Homo sapiens: one gene and its partner. The protein of the gene in region 2 interacts with the protein of the main gene of each other region in a pairwise test. Each region holds a gene or a part of one and is shown on either strand. Other genes may lie near its edges.

Region 1 (3,817 bases), on a different chromosome or scaffold from region 2:
GACAAAGACCTCAGACCTGAGCTAGGGGTCAAGCTCAGAGCCTCTAGCCTGCACTTGACCAACAACAGGCTGGGTGACTTTTAGTCAAATCATACATCAAAATGGCCTACTGTATTTTCAATATTCCTAGAATATTTGTATGGATTTCAGAAGGTCTAGAGGAAATCCCCGAGAGCCCTGAAACTCCCAGCGGCATTCTAGGGAGGAGGTGCATTCTGGTCCCCTCAAAGCAGAAGCCGTATGTTCCTCAGAAGCATCCATGCCCAGCCCATGTTGGGGGCCCTGGCTTTGCATGAGGGATGCTCACATGCCTGCTGGGTGGTAGAGTGAGGAGCTGTTTGTTCCAGCTCATGCCTCCCATGTTCTCTCACATGCTGGAGGGTACAGTCATCCTCCCGTTCCACTCCATTACTCCCCCGAGGAATGGCTCAAATCTGGCCCTGAGTCTGGTTTTTGCATTATTGTCCATGCTCCAGTGACCTGTATTCTGTTAACTTTGCAGCTGTTACAAGCCATCCCTGTTGGGGTCGGCCAGGTGTATGGCTGTGACAATCCCTGGACAGGCGGCGTGTTCCTGGTGGCTCTGTTCATCTCCTCGCCACTCATCTGCTTGCATGCAGCCATTGGCTCAATCGTGGGGCTGCTAGCAGGTAGGACAGAGCTCCCTCTCTTCAGGTCCTCAGGATAATTCACTCAAGGTCACTTTTCCCCTACATACAGCAAATCTTCCAGACATTCTCTTCCCTGCAGTTTTAAATACTTTCAGGGAGACAGGCACGGTGACTTATGCCTGTAATCCCAGCACTTTGGGAGGCCGAGGCACATAGATGACCTGAACTCAGGGTGAAAACCCATCTCTACTAAAGAAAAAAAAGTACAAAAATTAGCTGGGTGTGGTGGTGGGCACCCATAATCCCAGCTACTTGGGGAGCTGAGGCAGGAGAATCACTTGAACCCAGGAGGTGGAGGTTGCAATGAGCCAAGATCGTACCACCTCACTCCAGCCTGGGAAATAGAGTGAGACTCCGTCTTAAAAAAAAAAAAAATACATGTGGAGAGATGCAAGGGGGTAAGAACCAAGTTGGCCTGCAAACTGAGCCCCTGGAGCTGAGGATGCTGGAGAGACACAGGGGTAGGGGCGGGAGCAGTAACCAAGACCAACTGTGATAAAATAAATGGCCCAGCACTCTGAAATTTTTGGTAAGATACAAAGAAAATTGTTCTCAAACATTGGATTGCCACTTAACAAATGTGCTTTAATATTGCTACCTGTGTATATGTATGTATACACATTTAAATAGGTATTTGCTCTTTCTGACAACAGAGTCAGAGATTGGGGTAGGAGCATTGGGAGTAGGAACCTGTTTTAGACTTCTTCTAATATTTTTCAAAGATTTTTTTGGAAGCAAAACTTTAAAAAGTATTTTTTATTTGGAAATAGTTTTAAACTCATCAAAAAATGGTAAAAATAAAAATATGAGGCATCTGTAAATTCTTTCCCCAGATGTACCCACTGTTCACATCTTACTCCTTCTGCTGTATCATTCCTCTATCTACATATATCCATAAGTGTATAGGGATATTTTTCCAGAGCACTTGAAACAACTTTTAAAAATATTTGTTTAACTCTTCAAACCTTTTTGGAAACTTTCTTGCTAAGACTGCAGTTGCTGTAGTCAAAGCAGTAAGAAGGGGCCTAGAATCCCACCTCCTTGCCTCTTCTCACCCAGGAGGACCTCCAAGTGAAGCCTGTGGCTTTGACAACTGGTTTGGAAACCACTGTTCTCTTTTCATTGAAGGTCTCCTAAGACCGGATGCCATTTGTAGAGGCTCTTTTGATGGGCAGGTTTGGAGATGTGGGGTGAACAACAGCATGGAGGCCACTCTGAGACCTGGCACCAGTCCCAGGGTGGTCTTTGTTCTGTGGCCCAGAATCAGACAGAAATACCACACCTTGTCCCATAGCCCTGTCAGTGGCCACACCCTTCGAGACCATCTACACAGGCCTCTGGAGCTACAACTGCGTCCTCTCCTGCATCGCCATCGGAGGCATGTTCTATGCCCTCACCTGGCAGACTCACCTGCTGGCCCTCATCTGTGGTAGGTGTTCAGAAAAGCTGACAACCAGGTTATTCTGGCTATTCCTTCCCCCCTTGTTTATGTGAAACCCATGGGGACCACTAATCAATACTGTTCAGCAGTGACAGAAAGGCCAATGGCTTGCGTCCTAATGCCAGTGCTGCCCTTAACAGCTGGGGATTTCAGGTCCCTTTTCTGTCAAATGGGATCACAACCACCGAATGGTATTATACTTACACAGTGTTGTAAAGTTTATAAGGAAATCACATATGCATTTCCTTGTGTGCTAATGACAGCATTCCTGCTCTCTATAACTCTTCATTCAACAACTGTTTATACAACACCATCAAGTGCCAGGACCTAGTCTAGGTATAGAAGATACCATGGTGACTACATCCTCATGAAGCCACAGCCTAGCAGGAGAGAAGTAATTGCACAAATAATTACTAAGGCTGCAGCGTCCACAAAGGTTGTTGGAATGATCCAGTGAGGTGATGTACCAGGAGCACTAAAAATCATAACCACATTATGGAAGCTCGATTTCCATAAACAGAGAATATGCTGCCAGAAGGGAAATCAGCCATAGTCCTTCTCATACACCTGTATCCCAGCACCATACCCTGTTATATAAATATACAAACTCACTTAATCCCCCCAAGAATACCACCAGGCATAGCCTGCCTGGCCCATTTTACAGATGAGGAAATGAGGCTCAGAGGGGCTAATTAACTTGCCCTAGAAGATAGCTATTAATGGCAAAAGGGAGAGTCAATCCCAGCCCCAGCTTGCCACCAGCTCTCCTCTCCTGGTATTGTTCTCTGGAAGCAGGACAGGACATTAATAAATAAAACTAGAGTCAAGGAAACAGAAGACTAGCGTCTGGAACAGCTTCTCTTTTGTTTTTTCCCACTTATGCTTGGAGACTGAGAATGACTTCCATATCCCTTGTATCCCCTCAGCAGCCAACATGAGGCTGGGCATGGAGACAGTGGACCTAGTAAATATTTGTCAAGTTAAAAGTGCCTGTTATTTTGAGGTTCAGACCGTAACTGCTTTTGGCCTTCAGAGAAGTGGCAGATTCCTGTGGCTGGAATCATCTGGGAAGCCTACAGGGGGAGGCTAGGGTTTATCTCAACACTTCTAGTAGGATCTGAGTTGACAAAGAGAGAGGGAAGAGGTGTTCCGGACAGAGAAGGAGAAAGAGCAAAGCTGCAGGCAGAAGGAGTTTGTCCAGAGGCACCAGCTACATGGACGAGCTTTCCTGACTGTCCTCAGGACCCAGCTCCCATGGGGGAACCCAGCTGCCTGGCTCCTGGGGACTGGTTCAGGGGTCTAGTAAGGTTCAGCCCTGGTGAGACTTGGTGAACATCAAGCAGCATCACAGCTGCTCACAGTCTTGAATAGGAGGGACCTTGGCAGGAGCTCGTATAGTCTGACCACTCTTCCCCTACAACAATCATCCAGCCTGTACTAGCTCTTCGCTACCATCAGCGTAGACTAGCATATGATGTGTATTGACCCCTGACTCCATGCAAGGCCACTATGGAAGCAGGGAGGGGACAAAAGGAAATATATGTTTTAATCTCTGCCCGAAGAATGAACAGTCTGGTGGGAGACTGGCCTCACCTGTCTACAGAGATAACAAATGCCAGGCAAGCATGCCAGCTGTCAGGGCATGGTGCAGAATCTGAGGCTGCAGGAGAGAGGGTGGGGCTCCTGTTCTTGGTCTGGGCTCCCT
Region 2 (3,817 bases):
AGCTTTCCTTCTCTTAAATATTCCAACTGTCTCCTATTATTGGGAACAGTCTATATTGCTATCCTCAGTGGACTCTTCCAATGGAAGAGGCAAAGAATAATCTTGGGAACAATGTGCAGTGACACTTCACTTATTTGGAGGTCAGCTATAGGGCAACAGTGCAGGGTTTGAGGGAGCAGAAAGGACCCCTCAGCTGCTAAAATACTCCTGTGCTTTACTCACTGGGTAGATTCTCCAGTCCTCAGTCATGGCCTACTTACTTTTACTTTTTACTTACTTTTATTCACAATTTTAACGTGTCCATGTGTGTTCCTGTACTAGTAGATTAGAAACACATTTAGAGTAGCAAGTGACCCCTTGTAGTCAGGGAGGCAACACCACACACACACAAAATAACATTTAAAGCACTCATATGCATTTTATAAGTGGTCTAAGGTCATTTAGCATAAAAGCAAATAGCTCCCCGTGCCCCTACTGTTACAACTTCAGAAGACACTGCTGGAGAAAAGCCATTGGTTTCTGTGAATGATCCTCAGTTATGCAGAAAATTATTATATTGCAGATATGCTGAAGACAAGTGTAACATTTTAGAATGACTTCCTTCCAAAATGAGTATTTTTATTTTTTTCAGAGGGAGGGTCTCACCCTATTGCTCGGGCTGGACTGCAGTGGTGCGATCATGGCTCACTGTAACCTCAACCTCCCGGGTTGTGCACTTGCCCGTATCCAGGCTCCCTCAGGAATGGGAGGTCCCATGGAATGGTGGGACAAGGGTGAGATTTGGAACGAAGCCATGCCGGCTCTAAATCCACCACTTGGTAGAGACTGGGCCAGTCTTCTGATTTCCCTAAAGCTCCTCCTGAGCTTGCAAAATGGGGTTTATGATGCCCATGGCCCAGCCCTGTTGTGTGGGTTCACTTCAGGTGATGAAGAATCTGGCATCATCGGGCACTCACTTTTTTTTTTGAGATGGAGTCTTGTCTCGCTCTGTTGCCAGGCTGGAGTGCAGTGGCGCGATCTCAGCTCACTGCAACCTTTGCCTCCCAGGTTCAAGTGATTCTCCTGCTTCAGCCTCCCGAGTAGATGGGACTACAGGCACGCACCACCATGCCCAGCTTATTTTTGTATTTTTAGTAGAGACACGGTGTCACCATGTTGGCCAGGATGGTCTTGATCTCTTGACCTCGTGATCCGCCTGCCTCGGCCTCCCAAAGTGCTGGGATTACAGGTGTGAGCCACTGCGCCCCATCCAGGCACTCACTCTCTAACCACCTAGGTGCTTCTGCAGCCTTGGGCTGTGTGGCTGGGGGGTCCTTCTCCCCTCCTAGTGAGGTCTGGAGCTTGGTTCAGGCCCATGATTTTTTTTTTAAATCTATTTATTTATTTTGAGACCAGGTTGTGAGACTGGCTAATTTTTAGTATTTTTGGTAGAGACAGGGTTTCATCATGTTGCCCAGGCTGTTCTTGAACTCTTGGCCTCAAGCGATCCGCCTGCCTTGGCCCCTCCAAAGTGCTGGGATTACAGGTGTGAGCTACTGCGCCTGGCAGAATTTTGTTTCTTAAGGACTGAGTTCTGGTATCTTCTTTTCTTTTTTTTTGGAGAAGGAGTCTCGCTCTGTCACCCAGGCTAGAGTGCAGTGGCGCGATCTCCACTCACTGCAACCTCCGCCTCCCGGGTTCAAGCAATTCTCCTGCCTCAGCCTCTCGAGTAGCTGGGACTACAGGTGCATGCCGCCACACCTGGCTACTTTTTTGTATTTTAGTAGAGACAGGGTTTCACCGTGTTGCTCAGGCTAGTCTCGAACTCCTGAGCTCAGGCAGTCTGCCTGCCTTGGCCTCCCAAAGTGCTAGGATTACAGGCGAAAGCCACCGTGGCCCAGCCCTGGTATCTTCTTTTATCTTAGGCTCTAGACTCTGATTCACAGCCTGAACCCTATCTCATGCTGAAAACACCTCCCACCTTCCCACCAAGAGCCTTAACGTGGGTCCCACACCGCTAAGACCAAGCACCTTGGATATTGGTATCTATCTTGATGGAATTTTAGGTTGCCTCATTTCTTTTTTTCTTGGGCCCTGGTGGAAATAAACCTGAGTGACTGCTCCCCAGTGCCATCACTTGGGCAGGACACTCTGTCTTAGTTTCTCCATGCTGCCTGTACAAGGTCAGTCCCCTATCCCGGCTAGCTTGGGGCTTCACTGTGGCTGACAAGAGTATTATTACTACCTACACCTCGTACAGCACACAACCAGAACCTAGAGAAACTTCTTTCAGGCCCACTGATCTATAAGCACAAGCCTCCTTAGTGAACTCTGCCCTAAAGTCCTCCTTCCAGCATTTGGAAGCATTCCACCATGAGGAGCAGGTTTACCTTAAGTCTTTGTCCACTTTCAGTTTGCAATACCACTAGGAGAGAAAAGGTCTGGATGAAGGGATGAAGATATCAGGCTGCAGGTATTTGAGGTGGCTATGGGGGAAGAGAAGAGCAAAGGAGAGGGCAAAAGACCAGGCTATGGAGAGGCAGGGGAGGGAAAATCACTGCTTCACTATTTCCATTGGGCCTGACGCTGAGTGGATCCTGGATTGTTTGCGTTTGGGAAGGAGGGCCCAAAGGGAGAACAGTAAGCAAGAACCAGGTTCTCCAGAGCCCTCTCCCCAGTCTCTGGAGAGGGTCTGCAGTGAAAGGAGCTCGGGTCTTCCCTGAGCCAAGGTGCCAGGGTCCCAGAACTGCACATGGGCCCACACCCCTCTCTGCTACTTCCTCAGGCTCTTGCTCACTAGAAGAGAGGAAAATTGTGCAATTAGTGCTGGGTTTGAGGAGGCTGACAGGGTGTAATCAACAGGGCCTCTCCACCAGGTGTGGGGCTAGGCTGGGTGATGGGCTCTGCCAGGCGTGGGGCTAGGCTGGGTGACAGGCTCTGCCAGGTGTGGGGCTAGACAAGGAGAGCCTGAGGGGAGCCTCTTTCCCCAGGGACTGGGTCCGTTAGGGAATTCCTCAGTTTTGTTCCTGAGGCATCACTCCCACCCCCACAGCTTCCTTCTACATCTTCTGCCTCGATCTTCCTTCCAAACTCTGGGGCAGCTTCTGTCACTTTGCTCACTAGGGGCTGGGTTCCAACACTGCTTGCGAATCATTCCCTCCATCACCCACCCCAGCGCTGCAGCTCTGGCCGCTGCTTGTGCTCTCAGGCCCAGGGTCTTTCCTATAACCCTTGCCCTCTTGTCTCCTCCGTTTGCTTGTTCTGGGGACACTCCCCCTGTCTAGAATTCACAGCTCTATTCCAACTGCTGACAGCATTCTTTTGGTTCCAGTTTGGGCCCTCTTCCAGGAAGACCTCTTGGATTTGGCCATGGTGATGCCAGCACCACACACCCTGAATGTTTGTGAATTCTCCCTCCACTCACCTTTGCCTGCCTTGAGGTATCCTGGCTGAGAATTCATCTGTCTTGCATAGGACAGACTGCTAAATGCCTGGTGGGTGTGGAGGGTGGAGGGTAGGAGTCATGACTCCTGTGTCCCACCAGGGACAGCTGCTCCTATGATCTGGGCTCAGGGTATGCTCCAAAAATGAGAACCTTCCTGACCGCAGGGCCCAGCTGGCTCCCCTGACTTCTATGCTGGCAGTGAGGAAAGAGGCCCTGGAGTCAGTCATTGCAGAGCTGGGCCCCAGGCATTTGAGTGAAAATGGAGAGGATTGATCCTTAGGGTTCCTAGAATTTTCTTACCTTCTGTGTGGTATAAAAATCAAGAGTGCAGTGGTTGGGAGATGAACAGGAAGAGGGCAGGAGGTAGAGGGCCAAGCAAAGGGCTCCACAGGG

What was found.
Region 1: the proteins of LRP10 (region 2) and SLC14A2 interact in binary tests that used the Homo sapiens proteins (3 or more experiments, as listed by UniProt).

The regions. Positions count from the first base shown.
Region 1 is NC_000018.10:45,639,244-45,643,060, forward strand, and holds part of SLC14A2 (urea transporter 2), read left to right. Parts: intron 1-502; coding exon 503-650; intron 651-1,965; coding exon 1,966-2,100; intron 2,101-3,817.
Region 2 is NC_000014.9:22,878,157-22,881,973, reverse strand, and holds the end of LRP10 (low-density lipoprotein receptor-related protein 10 isoform 1 precursor), read right to left. Parts: 3' UTR 2,776-3,817; coding exon of another isoform or gene 2,773-2,775; 3' UTR 261-2,772; downstream 1-260. UniProt on the Homo sapiens protein: Probable receptor, which is involved in the internalization of lipophilic molecules and/or signal transduction. May be involved in the uptake of lipoprotein APOE in liver.